3 separate regions of the Homo sapiens genome follow, and all the other regions are linked to region 1. Evidence: fine-mapped expression QTL. A gene starts in region 1. Each other region holds a variant in brackets. All regions are shown on one strand. Distances are between the middles of the regions.

What was found.
Region 2: its variant is fine-mapped to the expression of PITPNA in whole blood (INTERVAL, PIP above 0.99). The same link has a PIP of 0.9 or more in esophagus mucosa.
Region 3: its variant is fine-mapped to the expression of PITPNA in gastroesophageal junction (GTEx, PIP 0.93).

What each region holds. Positions count from the first base shown.
Region 1 is chr17:1,560,681-1,565,901 of GRCh38, forward strand. PITPNA (phosphatidylinositol transfer protein alpha) reads right to left here and starts at 2,112. Exons shown (of 12, transcript NM_006224.4): 1 at 1,861-2,112. The coding sequence starts at 1,880. RefSeq lists enhancers at 1-150, 1,065-1,164, 1,933-2,432 and silencers at 1,275-1,404, 1,885-1,934, 2,005-2,284.
Region 2 is chr17:1,519,201-1,524,421 of GRCh38, forward strand. PITPNA (phosphatidylinositol transfer protein alpha) reads right to left here. Exons shown (of 12, transcript NM_006224.4): 11 at 2,379-2,445; 12 at 1-1,338. The coding sequence ends at 2,401. Among named protein-coding and RNA genes, the nearest start is that of PITPNA-AS1, 4.9 kb to the left of the region's middle. The variant A/G (reference allele first, on the strand shown) is at 2,454.
Region 3 is chr17:1,499,507-1,504,727 of GRCh38, forward strand. All of the region lies in intron 7 of INPP5K (inositol polyphosphate-5-phosphatase K), which reads right to left. Among named protein-coding and RNA genes, the nearest start is that of MYO1C, 9.4 kb to the left of the region's middle. The variant G/T (reference allele first, on the strand shown) is at 2,639.

The DNA.
Region 1 (5,221 bases):
AGGATGGGAAAAGCCTGTCAGTCTGGACACTGAAGATTAAAATCTAAAGTGCACCACGTTCTCCTGTTGGCATCGTAAAGTTCTTCCTCCTCACCAGGAAAAGCTCCGAGCCCTGGCTGAATTAACATCAGACTGGATGTCAAGAAACAGAGGGGATGAGGCCTCAAAATAATGCTCTTCAGATGAGGTGTTTAGCTGGGATGACATGTGGGTCTCAGCTCCCTCTGTTACCCAAACTCCACTCTATGTCCTAAATGTCCTAAGCACCTCCAAGGAGCCAGCCTGGTGGGGATGGTCAAAGTGCGATCGCTGACAAAGTGGCAAGAGCTCTCTGCACACCTGCCTGGCTGCCTCACAAGTTGCTCTCTGTTTGACCATCTCCCACTCCTGGGGCTTCTGGCCCTCCCTCCAGGAAAGCAGTTTCACTGTAAATTCTGTGCACACACGCACACGCACACACACACACACACCCATCCTATCTCTCCTCTTTGGGGAGAAAAATGTCCTGTGATGCTTACTTGGAACCCTGAGCTTCAACGATGGCTCATCTTGTACTTGAAAGATTTAGCACACCAAACATCTCCACCTGTCCCCCAGTCCCCTGGATTTCAGGAGCAAACCCGTCATCCTGCAACTCCTTCCAGAAGTCACCAGTTTCCCACGCACCCCTCTTCACTACTCAAGAGCTCCCCACCCCTTCCACCATCTCTCCTCAGTTCACGGCTCCATGGACCCCTCAATTCCTCAAAGAATTTCCCCATCTCTTTGCACCAAGACTGAGAATCCCCTAGAAACAAGCTGGCCCTGCCCTGGTCTCCCCCATCTCCAACGGCAGGTATACTCATCCCAACATACTCTCTTTCCGGACCAGCCTCGACCCCGGTAACTTCCCGGCCTTCTCCACTTCGGACCCTACCCAACATTTTCTGGCCTCCTCGCCCAAGTCTCCCCACGTCCCAAGCAGTCATCCCAAGCTTGTTCCAAAAGCCTCCTCTTCCGCACCAGCTGCTTGGGCACCACGGTTACTCCGGCCCGCATCTCAGCCCCCTCTGCATGTCCTCAGACCCTTCACCTGTCTCCCCAGCCAGGCCCTGACTTCCTAGTCCTCCTCCTGTGTCCACTTACCACCACCCCTCACCCGATGCCTAAGGCGGCCACTCCTCCCCATCCCCATCCCAACTCCATCGCGGAGCCTCTGACCCATCCACCCGGCTCTCCGTGTGAACTGTTCGGCCCTCCACCTTTCCCCACCGCCGGGAGGCCCTGCCTGCCCCGGTGCGCCTCTTCCTCGGCCGCCGCGGGGCCTCTCAGCGCCGCCTGCAGTCCCGGCTGAGCCCGCGCCCTCGGCCCGCGCAGAGCGACCCCACAGCACTCCCAGCGCTCGGCGTCCCCTCGGCCTCCCCCAGTCCCGGGCCAGCTCTCCCTGCCCTGACCCCGTCTCGGGCCTGGCCTCGCCCTCGCTGTCCCCGGCCTCTCCTCGGGTCCACTTGGGCCTCCGAGGCCCCCGGGGCGCCTGAGGAGCCGTCCGCCCGGGTTGTCCCTCCGTGCCCGTGGGCCCCTCCATGCCCCGGCTGCCCGTCCATGCCCCGTGGGCCCCGGCTCAGATGCCGAACGCCCCGGCTGCCCCTCCACGCCCCGGCCGCCCCTCCACGCCCCGGCCGCCCCTCCGTGCCCCGTGGGCCCCGCCTCACGTGCCGCCCGCCCCGGATCCCCTCCATCCCCGCTGGGCCCGCCTCAGGCACCCTCCGTCCCTGCTGCCCCTCCGTCCATCCGGGCCCTGCGTCCCTCGCCGCGCCGTCGCCCCGGCGGCCGTCCCCACCCTCCCTCCTCCCCGCTTCCGCACGGCCGCCGGACACTCACTACTCCTTGAGCAGCACCATGTCGCTTCGCGGCTCGGTGGCTGCCCGCGGCCCGCCCGGCCTCCCGCCCGCTGCCCGCCGGCCGCTCTCCCCGTGGCCCGGCCCGGCCCGGCTGCCTGTGCGTCTTCGTCGTGCTCTGCTCCGTCCCCGCCGCCCTCGCCGCGGTCGCCGCGCCGGCTCCTGCCGCCCGGGCCTCGTCGCCTCTCGCGCCGCTGCCGACGCCGCCCGGAGCTCCGGTTCCGCAGCGCCGCGCGGGGGCGGGGCGTCTCTGCGGCAACCAGAGCGTCACACGCCGCGGTGCGCGCTGACGTCACGCGGGGCCGAGCCTTCCCAGGCCCGCCCTCCCGTCCTTAAGTGGGCCGCGGCGGCGCTGTCGGTTCCGAGGTGGGGCCCCGCGGCTGGGGCCAGACCCGGCAGAAGGCGGAGCAGACTAGGGTGTCCGTCACCGTCCTCGGTGTGAACCGCCACGGATGCACGCGGGTGCTGGCTGGGGGGCCTCCCCGGTTGAGGGAATTGAGACCCAGGAAAAGGTTGTTTCAAAAAATATTAATAGCCGCGCGCGGTGGCCCACGCCTGTAATCCTTGCACCTTGGGAGGCCGAGGCGGGCGGATCACCTGAGGTCAGGAGTTCGAGACCAGCCTGGCCAACATGATGAAACCCCGTCTCTACTAAAAATACAAAAATTAGCTGGGCGTGGAGGCACGCACCTGTAATCCCAGCTACACGGGAGGCTGAGGCGGGAGAATCGCTTGTACCGGGAGGCAGAGTTTGCAGTGAGCCGAGATCGCGATCGCGCCATTGCACTCCAGCCTGGGGGACAAGAGTGAAACTTCGTCTCAAAAAAAAAAAAAAGAAAAGAAAAGGGCTGTGAGGCCGGGCGCGGTGGCTCCTGGCAGTAATCCCAGGCACATCATGCCTGTAATGCAGCACTCAGGCGGGCGCATCACCTGAGGTCAGGAGTTCCAGACCAGATGGCGAAACCCCATCTCTACTAAAAGTACAAAAATTAGCCGGGCGTGGTGGTGGACGTGGTGGTGGTAGTCCCAGCTGCTCGGGAGGATGAGGCAGGAGAATCGCTTGAACCCTGGAGGCGGAGGTTGCAGTGAGCCGAGATCGCACCATTGCACTCCAGCTGGGGCGACAGAGCGAGACTCTGCATCAAAAAAAAAAAAAAAAAAAAGAATGAAAAGGGCTGTGAGAAATGAGACACAGGCTTAGCGGCATTACACGGAGGGGCACCTAATTGAGCGTCAGGGATGTAGTCAGGGAAGGCTTCCTGGAGGAAGAGATTCTCAGATCTGCAGAGGGCTTCGGAGAAGAGCATAGCAGGCAGAGTGAATGCAAAGGCTGGAGGCAAGAGGGAGAGCATGGTGCATTTGGAGAACTGACAAGTGAGTGGAACAGAACATTTCAGGGCTGAGCAGCTCAATAGGGGAGGGTTCCTGGTGAACGATGATAAGGTATTTGGAGTCCACCCTAAGGGCGGTGGGAGGGCATGTAAGGGCTCTGAGCAGTGACATGAGCGGGTGTCCTGGGCGAAGGCTCACTCTAGTGGTTGGGTGGACAGAGGGGATGGAATGCCAGAGCGTAGGCAGGGAGACCGGCGAGGAGGCTGCTGCAGATGTCCAGGTGCAGGTGGACTAGGACAGTGGGAGGGAAGAAAAGGAAGGGATGGATTCAGGAGCAACTCAGAAGGTAAACTCCGTGAGACTTGTTGACTCATTGGCTGAGAGGAGGAGAGAAAAGCAGCGAGGTCTCTGGCCTGGGAGCCGGGGTGGACGGTACTGTCTTCTCTGAGAACACAGGCAAGACAGGCTGGCATGGGGGCAGGTAATGACTCCAGTGCTGGACTCACACTCAGCGCAGGACGCTAGAGGGGCATCCAGGGGAGATGGGAGTGGGCTGCCTAAGACAGGGACTTGGGAAGGGAGGGTGGAGCAGCTGGCCGTGTTGCTATCAGGATGTGACTGGCGGCCCGCGACTGCCCTGAGCACTGTGCTCACTTATCAGATCCTAGAGTGGGGGCCAGGCTGAGTGCCTCACACCTGGATTCCCAGCACTTTGGGAGGCTGGGGCGGGCGAATCACTTGAGGCCAGGAGTTCAAGACCAGCCTGGCCAACATGGTAAAACCCCATCTCTACTAAAACAAAAATTAGCTCAGTGTGGTGGCATGTGCCTGTCGTCTCAGTTACTCGGGAGGCTGAGGTAGGAGAATCGCTTGAGCCCTGGAGGCAGAGGTTGCAGTGAGCCGAGATCATGCCACCGCACTCCAGCCTGGGCGACAGAGCAAGATTCTGTCTCAAAAAAACAAGCCGACCACTATTCACAATAGCAAAGACTTGGAACCAACCCAAATGCCCATCAATGACAGACTGGATAAAGAAAATGTGGCACAGCCGGGCGCGGTGGCTCACTCCTATAATCCTACCACTTTGGGAGGCTGAGGCGGGCGGATCATCAGGTCAAGAGATCAAGACCATCCTGGCTGAAATGGTGAAACCCTGTCTCTACTAAAAATACAAAAATTAGCTGGGTGTGGTGGCACGCGCCTGTAGTCCCAGCTACTCGGGAGGCTGAGGCAGGAGGATCACTTGAATGCAGGAGGATCACTTGAATTCAGGAGGCAGAGGTTGCAGCGAGCCAAGATCGTGTCACTGCGCTCCAGCCTGGCGAGAGTTAGACTCTGTCTCAAAAAAAAAAAAGTCTCAGATAATGTGGCACATATACACCATGGAATACTATGCAGCCATAAAAAAGGATGAGTTAATATCCTTTGTAAGGACATGGATGAATCTGGAAACCATCATTCTCAGCAAACTATAGCAAGGACAGAAAACCAAACACTGCATGTTCTCATTCATAGGTGGGAATTGAACAATGAGAATACTTAGACACAGGAAGGGGAACATCACACTCTGGGGCCTGTTGTGGGACGGGGGGAGGGGGAGGGATAGCATTAGGAGATATTCCTAATGTAAATGACTAGTTAATGGGTGCAGCACACCAACATGGCACATGTATACATATGTAACAAGCCTGCACGTTGTGCACATGTACCCTAGAACTTAAGTATAATAAGAAAATAAAATTAAATTTAAATTAAAATAAAAAAAAACAAGCCGACCTTGGACATCATGTCATCTCACCCCTCCAGGTTACAGTGCACATTCTAGAAATATGCACATTTCTTACAAATGCATAATGCCATTGTCATACTTAACAAAATTAATAATGATTTCCTGATGCTATCTCATCCCCAGTTCATATTCTAATTTCCCTGCTAATCTAAAAAATGCTATAGTTTCCTTTAGAGAAGTTCAGTATCCAGGCAAGGTCCATGTATTTTTTTTTTTCACACTT
Region 2 (5,221 bases), 41 kb before region 1:
TTAGCAGATGCACCCAGGCTAGTGTGGGCTGGGATCACGGCACACTTAGGCCAACGTGCTTCACAAGGTTTGGGGAATGTCAGGTGACACTACAGCTCTCTCTCATTCTCCCACTAAGAGGCAAACTCAGGCTCTGTCAAGTTGCAGGAAGCTATGAACACTGGGCAGCGTCTGTTCCCCTGGAGCCTGGACTTCCTCACCAGCCTACTTTGGTCGGGTTCTGTACTATGATCACTACTTGCTTTGGGTTTTCCAGGGCAGAACTCAACATGGGGGTAGGACGAGCTAAGTTCTTGATCCCCAAATTCCTTTCCGGCAACTGGAGACGAGGGAACATGTTCTGCTGGAAAAAGCTTTTTGCATGCTCATATTGTGCAGCATGAAAGATCAGGACTCTTGCTTCCTAACCAGCCTCAAAGACAGAGGACAGGGACCTAAGAAAGCACAGAGAAAAGAGGATTATTGCTGAGTGGCAGCACCAGCCCCAAAGGGAAGAGGAGGAGCAGGGACTTACAGAGCTCCTCGGGGTCAGACAGTTGGTATCTAGGGGGTGACTCAATTCTAGGGGCCACACTGGACAATTCCCTCCAAGTGGAGAGTTGACTGGGGCGATTTTGTAGACTGCAGAGAGATTCAGAGCGGGCAACAGGAGGGCCAAGAAGCCACAGGTGTTTCTAAGAGTAGTAACTAGAGATTCAGTGATTGGGACAGGGTTACTCGTATTTGTTAAATTTTCTTAAATAGAGACTGGCTGAGCCTTGGGTACCTCCATAGTGCTAGAGTGCCCTAACGATGGGTTACTGGGAGCAGAAGTCAGAGCTGCAAAACCACATTGCTATTTTGTGGAAGCGGTGCGGGGCAGGGAAACATTGTATCTTTAGCTCATCCCCGCTCCCCACAGGAGCACTCAAAATTGCGAAGATCTTCCCAGGAAGCAAAATACCTCAGTTTACCCCAAGGTTGAGAACAAATGAACTTAAATCATTTAAATCACCACATCACAAAAGGCAGCTATTTGAAAGACTGAAAATGTCACTTGGAAATAAAGGTTGGGGGAACACACAGAAATGGATCGGAACACAATGGAGAGAGACGGAGGCGCTGTAACTACAGCAACCTACACGCCACGTATCTCGGAGGAGCAGGCTCCTGCACACGCGGGCTCTGTGACACCAGACGGTCTATTTGTTCACAATACTGAAGGGCATCTAGAATTAGCTACAGTAAGGAATCGAAAGTTGCCTGAAGAATGGGCACAGAACGGCTGCGTCCGAAAATGGCCTGTCACTTGGGAGGGTGGAGCTGCTGGGTCTTCCTGTTGACCACTGTCTTGCAAAACTAGAAGAAAAATGAAAGTATTAAGGAAGCAAGAGGAGAAAACAGAAACACTGTAAATCGTCCTGAATGGATAATTTCAAGAGGAGGAGGGAAGCCAGTGGGTGGGTGGGGAAGGGAGTGGGGGAGAGCACTGAGGCCCAGAGCAGTGACTGAGAAGCTGGCATCACAGCAGTCCGCCTCATTCCACCCTCCAGCCTCCCCGAGGCTGCTTTGGGAACATGGGGCAGGGAGAGTAAGCAGGGCCTGCCGTCACTCCTGGTGAGACCCTGGCCCTCCTTGCCCGTAGGGTTAGAGGCCAGCTTTTATTTGTAAAAATAATTTTCTCTCTGAGGCTAATTGGGAGCAGAGCCAGGTTTTTCATTCAGTGATTAAGACTGCTTTGAGCTGCTGGAATCCCATGACTCGGGTGGTGTACAGGGCACTGGGAAACCAGCACCGAGAGTTAACGGAAGGAGGGGGCTTGGGGAAAAGTGACAACATGAAACAAGGGGCCCCCAATCTGGCCCTGTGACCTGGGCAGAAACACCCTCCCAGCATCTGAAAGATGCCACCTCTGATGAGGGCAGCTTAGTATGGGATCGGGGGTATAAAGAAGGAAATGAAGCACCAGACAACAGTGGGTGCTAACAAAAGCTGTCTGGCCAGCAAGTTTTCCAAGGGGGAAGGGCAGGTAATGGCAGCTTTTGGGAGCTGGCGCTGGCGTGGGAAGGCCAGGGAGTGCCCAACATGACAGCTGCAACTTGAGATGGATCAAGCTGGCAGACAGGAGGAGTGATTCGCAGCAGATGAACTCCCCTTCTATATCCACCACCCCCTCCCTGTCCATTGTCTCTATCTGGGTGGTTCTTTGGAAAATGTCCCTGAAATGTCCCAAGGGCCATAATCTCCTAGTGGAAGTGGAGAGCTATCGAGCGTGGCAACCATCATTACTAGAGGGAAGGAGGAATAGGTTTTCTGACTCCATAGTGAGCTGCTGAGGCCTTGAAACCCAAACTGATTTTAGCGTCTGTGACACGCACAGTGAGAAATTTGGTACGTACAGTGCAGAGGGGAAAGGCGGCTTTAGTCATCTGCTGTCATTCCTTTCACTGGGTCCTTTTGTCTCATCTGGAACA[A/G]AAAAAGCAGGACAAATGGAAGGCTCCTGCTGCTGATGGAACTCCTGCCTTCTCAGTCCTGCCCATAGGTGGGGTGGGGCATATTTTGTGTAAAAAGCAAGACACTGGAAGGACGGAAGAATTCTGCATATGGACTCGAAGCCATACATTTCCAGATCTGTGTCACTGGTCTCACCATCCATGATTTCTAGTTCTCTCGTGTCACGGTGTTTGAAGCACCTTTTTTTTTTTTTTTTTTTTGGTAAAGAGGTGTGTGTGGGGGGGTCTTCCTATGTTGACCAGGCTGGTCTTGGGCTCCTGGCCTCACACGATCCTCTGCCTCAACCTCCCAAAGTGCTGGGATTACAGCATAGGTGTGAGCCACCACACTTGGCCCGTTTCATTCATTTATTCATTCAACAAATACTTATGAAACATCTTTTTTTTTTTGAGACGGAGTCTCGCTCTGCCGCCCAGGCCGGACTGCGGACTGCAGTGGCGCAATCTCGGCTCACTGCAAGCTCCGCTTCCCGGGTTCACGCCATTCTCCTGCCTCAGCCTCCCGAGTAGCTGGGACTACAGGCGCCCGCCACCGCGCCCGGCTAATTTTTTGTATTTTTAGTAGAGACGGGGTTTCACCTTGTTAGCCAGGATGGTCTCGATCTCCTGACCTCATGATCCACCCGCCTCGGCCTCCCAAAGTGCTGGGATTACAGGCGTGAGCCACCGCGCCTGGCCGAAACATCTTTTTTTGTGTGTGTGAGGAGTCTTGCTCTGTCGCCCAGGCTGGAGTGCAGTGGCGCAAAGTTGGCTTACTGCAACCTCTGCCTCCTGGATTCAAGCGATTGTCCTGCTTCAGCCTCCCAAGTAGCTGGGATTGCAGGTATGCACCATCACGCCCAGCTAATTTTTGTATTTTTAGGGGAGACGGGGTTTCACCATTTTGGCCAGGCTGATCTTGAACTCCTGACCTCAGATGATCTGCCTGCCTTGGCCTCCTGAAGTGCTTGGATTACAGGCGTGAGCCACCGCACCCAGCCTCAGTGAGGCATCTCTTTAGTGCTAGGGACTTCCAGAGGGCTGGGAATATTTAGCTGTGAACTAAACAGACCAGTTCTCTCCTCAAGGAGCTTATATTCTGGGGCAGGATGGGCAGAGAACAAACATTCATCTATGTCAGCTAGGACTGTGGGCTGCTCGGATACAGAATGACTGTGGGTAAGTGCTATTTTAGGTAGTTACAGAAGCTTGTATGTGAGGTTTGAGATGAAACCTGAGAGAAATGAGGGAGAAAATCCTGTGGCTCTCCGGGAGAGGAGTTCCCGGCAGAGTAACAGAACTTCCCTTTCCTGACCTGTTTAAAGGTGGGCACAATGTGGTGTCAGAACTAGGCACAAGGATGCAGAGGTGGAAAGTGCAGGTGCAGGTCTCAGATCCACAGATGTGCAAGGCTGCTGGAAAACAGGATGGGGGCTTCTGTGGAAGCACCAAGTGGTCCCTGTCACTGGCACCTTCCAGGCAGACATCACTGGGGATACTGTAGACGTCATCTCTCTAAAATCAGTTCTGATTTGAAAACTCCATTCTATGTGAAGAATGTCAATAAGTATTTCTTCACTATCCATTAGTTTTCTGCTCAACTTTTGTTCTTTATAATGTTCAACAAATTTTGAGCACCTAAGAGCATAGCTGCTAGAATGAAACTCCCTAGACTGTATTGTTTTGTTTGAGACAGGGTCTGGCTCTGTTGCCCAGGATGGAGTGCAGTGGCGCAATCATGGCTCACTACAGCCTCGACTCCCTGGCTCAAGTGATCCTCCTGCCTCAGCATCCCAAGAAGCTGGGACTACAGGCATGTGCCACCACGCCTGGCTTTTTTTTTTTTTTTTTTTGAGACACAGTCTCTCTCTCTGTCGCCAGGCTGGATGGCAGTGGTGTGATCTCGGCTCACTGCAATCTCTGCCTCCCGGGTTCAAGCAATTCCCCTGCCTCAGCCTCCCCAGTAGCTGGGACTATAGGCACACGCCACCATGCCTGGCTAATTTTTTTTTGTATTTTAATAGGGACGGGGTTTCACCATGTTGGTCAGGATGATCTCAATCTCCTAACCTCACGATCTGCCTGCCTCAGCCTCCCAAAGTGCTGGGATTACAGGCGTGAGCCACTGCACCCAGCCACCTGGCTGATTTTTTATTTTTTCGGTGTGTGTGGGGACAGGGTCTCATTGTATTGCCCAGGCTAGTCTCGAACCCCTGGACTTAAGTAGTCCTCCCGCCATGGCCTCCCAAAGTGCTGGGATTACAGGAATGAGCCACTGCACCTGGCCTGGATTGTATTCTGACTCCATCACTAATTGTATGACCTTGAGTAAGTTACTGCAATGCTCTCTAAGCCTCAGTTTTTTTCTTTTTTCTTTTTTTTTTTTTTTTTGAGACGGAGTCTCGCTCAGTCACCCAGGCTGGTGTGCAGTGGCACGATCTTGGCTCACTGCAAGCTCTGCCTCCTGGGTTCACGCCATTCTCCTGCCTCAGCCTCCCGAGTAGCTGAGACTATAGGTGCCCACCAACACGCCCGGCTAATTTTTTGTGTTTTTAGTAGAGACGGGGTTTCACCATGTTAGCCAGGATGGTCTCCATGTCCTGACCTCATGATCCGCCCGCCTTGGCCTCCCAAAGTGCTGGGATTACAGGCGTGAGCCATCGCACCTGGCCTTTTTTTTTTTTTTTTTTTGAGACAGGGTCTCACTGTGTCACTCAGGCTGGAGTGCAGTGGTGCGATCACCATGCAAG
Region 3 (5,221 bases), 61 kb before region 1:
TCGACTGAGAGACCTCCCACCTGTTCTTCACTTGCCAGTTTCCCTGAGGGGTTTGGAAAAGGTAATACGCTCCGGAGACAAAATGCATTCCTCCTCTAGGTAACTGAAGTTGACCAAAGACGAGTCTCTGACCCATAACCCAGCCTTCCGAAGCAACTACTGTGGCAGTTTCTAAGGCCACCTTGTCCTTGAGGCCCTGCCCTCCTGGAGACCAGCAGCTCTGACTCCTGGAGGTGGGGTGTGTGTGTGGCGGGGGAGCAGGACAGCTGCGGTTTCTGGGTTCCACCCCCTTCATGGACAATCTCCTTTCTTGAATCAACCCAGAGTAATAAAGCCTAATTGGATCAATCAATCAATCAATCTATAGACAGGGTCTCACACACTCTATCTCATCTATTGATCGATCGACAGGTCTCACTGTGTTGAATCCTATCTACCTACCTATTGATTGATCAATCCATCGACAGGGTCTTGCTGTGTTGCCCAGGCTGAGTGCGGTGGCACAATCCTAACTCACTGCAGCTTCAAATGCCTGGGCTTCAAGCAACCCCCCACCTCCGCCTCCTGACCAGCTGGGACCACAGGCATGTGCCAGGGCACCCGGCTATTTTAGAACCTTTAAGGCATCTTCACTGCCTCCAGAATAAAGTTAAAGTCCCCAAGTAGGGCTTTCAAGGGGCTCAGGAGTCTGACCACCCCATCCTTCATCTCACACCACTTCCCCAGACCCACTCCACCTTGGTGACTCTCTCAAGCCTCTGGACCTTTGCTTTTGCAGTATTTGCTGCCTGGAACACCTTTCTTCACCAGGGAGAGGCCTTTGCCGAAACCATCCCAGACATTAGCTTTTTGCTTCCAAAGTTTTTTTTTTTTTTTGAGACGGAGTCTCGCTCTGTTGCCCAGGCTGGAGTGCACTGGCGCAATCTCGGCTCACTGCAAGCTCCGCCTCCCAGGTTCATGCAATTCTCCTGCCTCAGCCTCCAGAATAGCTGGGATTACAGGCGCCTGCCACCATGCCTGGCTAACTTTTTTGTATTTTTAGTAGAGACGGGGTTTCACCGCATTAGCCAGGATGGTCTTGATCTCCTGACCTCGTGATCTGCTCGCCTTGGCCTCCCAAAGTGCTGGATTACAGGCGTGAGCCACCGCGCCCGGCCACTGAAACATTTTATACCAGTATTATACGATTACACTACATTGCAATTTTCTGTTTCCCACTCAGCATGTCACTTAGGTGTAAGCCCTGAAGGCAAGGACTTAGCTGTTGGAGTGTCCTGTGTATCCTCAGCATTAGCACAGATCCTGGCACACAGGTACTCAATAACCAGGTACACTTACTAAAAACCCAAGCTGAAGCTCGTCCCTCAAAAATGTCCGTCTAATCTTAATGTTTACAGCTCCATATACTCGCAGTTGGAAACACTATTTTTGTCTCCTTCTTTATTCAACTGCTTTTTTTTTTTTTTTTTTTTAAGACGGAGTCTCGCTATCGCCCAGGCTGGAGTGCAGTGGCGCAATCTCAGCTCACTGCAACCTCTGCCTCCCGGGTTCAAGCGATTCTCCTGCCTCAGCCTCCCAAGTAGCTGGGATTATAGGCGTTGAGCCACCATGCCCAGCTAATTTTTGTATTTTTAGTAGAGACTGGGTTTCACCATGCTGGCCAGGCTGGTCTTGAACTCCTGACCTTGTGATCCGCCCGCCTCGGCCTCCCAAAGTGCTGGGATTATAGGCGTGAGCCACCGTGCCTGGCCTATTCAACTGCTATTTTAAATAAATGTTCCCAATGTACTGGTGTCCCTTCAACAGTAAAAGAGTAAGTATTCTAGCAACTGAGGAGAATGGCGTTACAGTGGTGAGCTCAGACTTTTGAATCAGAGACCAGTTGGGGGAAGGGTCCGTCCTGTTAATTGAGAGCTGTATGCCCCTGGGCAAGTGACTTCATTTCTCTAAGCCTCAGTTTCTTCAGCTGTTAAGACGGGGTGATAACAGTACTTACTTCAAAGAGCAGTAATGAAATTAAAGGGCGTCAAGGGGGTGGTCACGAAGCGGTAACTTTGACTAACCCTGGTCTGCCTGTTGGCTCCTTGGGTCATTTCCAATCTTTCACTCTTCTAAGGAGTGTTCAGAGGGCACTGGAATGTGGTATTCCCATCCCAGAGACCACAGACACTGCGTCCCTGAATCTGCCTTGGACAGCAGGTGCCTAGCAATGCTTACAACTTGGTAATGGGGCTGGGCACGGTGGCTCACGCCTGTAATCCCAGCACTGTGGGAGGCTGAGGCGGGCGGATCACAAGGTCAGGAGTTCAAGACCAGCCTGGCCAACATGGTGAAACCCCGTCTCTACTAAAAACACACACACACACACACACACACAAATTTGCCAGGCGTGGTGGCATGTGCCTGTAACCCCAGCTACTCAGGAGGCTGAGGCAGGAGAATCGCTTGAACCTGGGAAGCGGAGGTTTCAGTGAGCCAAGATTGCATTGTTGCATTCCAGCCTGGGCAACAGAGCAAGACTCCATCTCAAAAAAAAAAAAGAAAAAAACAAACAAACATAGGGCCAGGCACGGTGGCTCACGCCTGTAATCCCAGCACTTTGGGAGGCCAAGGCGGGCAGATCATGAGGTCAGGACAT[G/T]GAGACCATCCTGGCTAACATGGTGAAACCCCGTCTCTACTAAAAATACAAAAAATTAGCCAGGCGTGGTGACGGGCGCCTGTAGTCCCAGCTACTCAGGAGGCTGAGGCAAGAGAATGGCGTGAACCCGGGAGACAGAGCTTGTAGTGAGTGGAGATCGCGCCACTGCACTCCAGCCTGGGCGACAGAGCGAGACTCCGTCTCAAACAAACAAACAAACAAACTTGGTAATGAACCACACAAATGCACGTTCTCTCTTTCAAAGCATTCTCCCTCCCTAACTTCCCTGTGATGGTTTGGAGCCCATATATGCTGTCATGTAAGGGTCTTCCCCAAGCCCTGACCACAGCCTGTCTCTCCTTCCTCCTCAGGACTCTCAGCCCACCCCCACCCCCCTTTTTTCCTTTTCCTTGCCACGGCCAGGCTGATCACTGGGCATACCAAGATTTACTTAGCCCTTCTTATGTGCCCCGCAACTGGGGATATGAGAAATAGGATGGACAAAGTCCTTGAGGAGCCTGTTTAGCAAAATCCAAGAAACAAGCAAAGTGAGCGTGTACAAATTAACCAAGTTCTCTCCACTCCACCTTGTTTTTCTTTAGAGACAGGGTCTTGCTGTCATGCAGGCTGGAGTGCAGTGGTGTCCTCCTAGCTCACTGCAGCCTCCTTGAACTCCGAGGCTCAAATGATCCTCCTGCCTCAGCCTCCTGAGGAGCTGGGACTTCAGGGGTACACACCATGCCCAGCTGTTTTTTTTTTCTTTTTAAGACAGGGTCTCACTGTTGCCCAGGCTGGAGTGCAGTGGTGTGATCACAGCCCACTACAGCCTCAACCTCCTGGACTCAAGCAAGGCTCCCACCCCAGTCTCCTGAGTAGCTGGGACTACGGGTATGTGCCACCATGCCAACTTTTGTATTTTTTTGTAGAGATGGGGTTTCACCATGTTGCCCAGGCTGAACCTGAGCTCCTGGGTTCAAGTGATCATCCTGTCTCTGCCTCCCAAATTGCTGGGTTTAGAGGTGTGACCCATCACGCCTGGCCTTTTTTTTTTTTTTTTGAGACGAAGTCTCGCTCTGTCACTCAGGCTGGAGTGCAGTGGCGTGATCTCGGCTCACTGCAACCTCCGCCTCCTGGGTTCACGCCATTCTCCTGCCTCAGCCTCCCGAGTAGCTGGGACTACAGGTGCCCGCCACCATGCCCGGCTAATTTTTTTTTATTTTTAGTAGAGACGGGGTTTCACCGTGTTCACCAGGATGGTCTCGATCTCCTGACCTCGTGATCCACCCGCCTGGCCTCCCAAAGTGCTGGGATTTCAGGCGTGAGCCACCGCACCCGGCCACACCAGGCCTTTTAAAAAAATTTTGCAGGGGGAGGGTTCTCACTCTGATGGTGAAACCTCATCTCTACTAAAAATACAAAAAATTAGCCAGGCATGGTGGCGGGTGCCTGTAATCCTAGCTATTCAGGAGGCTGAGGCAGGCGAGAATCACTTGAGCCCAGGAGGCGGACGTTGCAGTGAGCCAAGATCATGCCATTGCACTCCAGCCTGGGTGACAAGAAGAAAACTCTGTCTCGAAAAAAATAAAACACTTTGTCTGGGCTCACAGTGGCAACTATAACAAAACTCCAGTGTAACCCCGGACTTTAGCAGGATTCCCGCCCTGCCCTCAGCCCTTTTGCCCTCCCTATAAGGGAGCTGGCCTCGTTTCTCATTACATCTTGGCTCAGGGACACCGTAGTGGCTGGCCCAGCACACTAACGCTCACAGTCACTTCATCAAACCGGCCCCCTCCAGGTTCCTCTCGTCAGTGTGCTGACTGATTGGAAAGCCCGCCTTTCTGCTTTCTGCGAAACTCTGTGCCTCCTTCAAGATACTGTCCTTGACAGGAAGTCTGACAGGCCTCTCCTAGCTTTAGCTGTTCACCTCCTTAACATTTGCTCCAACCTTCTGCACGGAGTTCTGGAAACCTTCTATTGACTAACTCCCAGGCTTGGTAACATATGCCAGGTACTGTGCTACTCCCAGGGATGGTCCTAAATCAGATCGTCTCTGCTCTCTGGGCAATCACAGTACAGTAAGAAAGGTACGCTGTGTCTCAAAAGCAACACTGAAAGCATGGCATGCGCAAGGCTGGGGGTGGCACAAGGCAGGAGAGGAACTCTCAGTGAGATGAGGAGGGGCCGGGAAGGCGTCCTAGGAGAAGTGATGTCTCAACTGGGTTTCCAAGGATAAAATAACAGTGTCATTAGACAGGAATATCTGTTCCCCAGGTGGGCTCAGGCCCTGCTCACTGCAAAACTCCCAGCTGCCCCTGGATCCTGGCCCCAGCCAGGAGTATTTCAGTTACCATGTCCCCTGTTCCCGCCCAGACAGTCTTGCATTTCCTGGGCTCCAGCCAAAGGGAAGCAGTACCGAAGGCTCATGAGTCTACAGACACAGATATGAGTTCCAATCCTCGTGCGATGAAGAAGCCTGTTACTCCTTACTTATATATTCTTTGAGACTCAGTTGCTTTCCTTGTAAACAGGCAATAATAACACTGTTTACCTAACGAGGACATGGTAGGAACTGATACAGGCAAA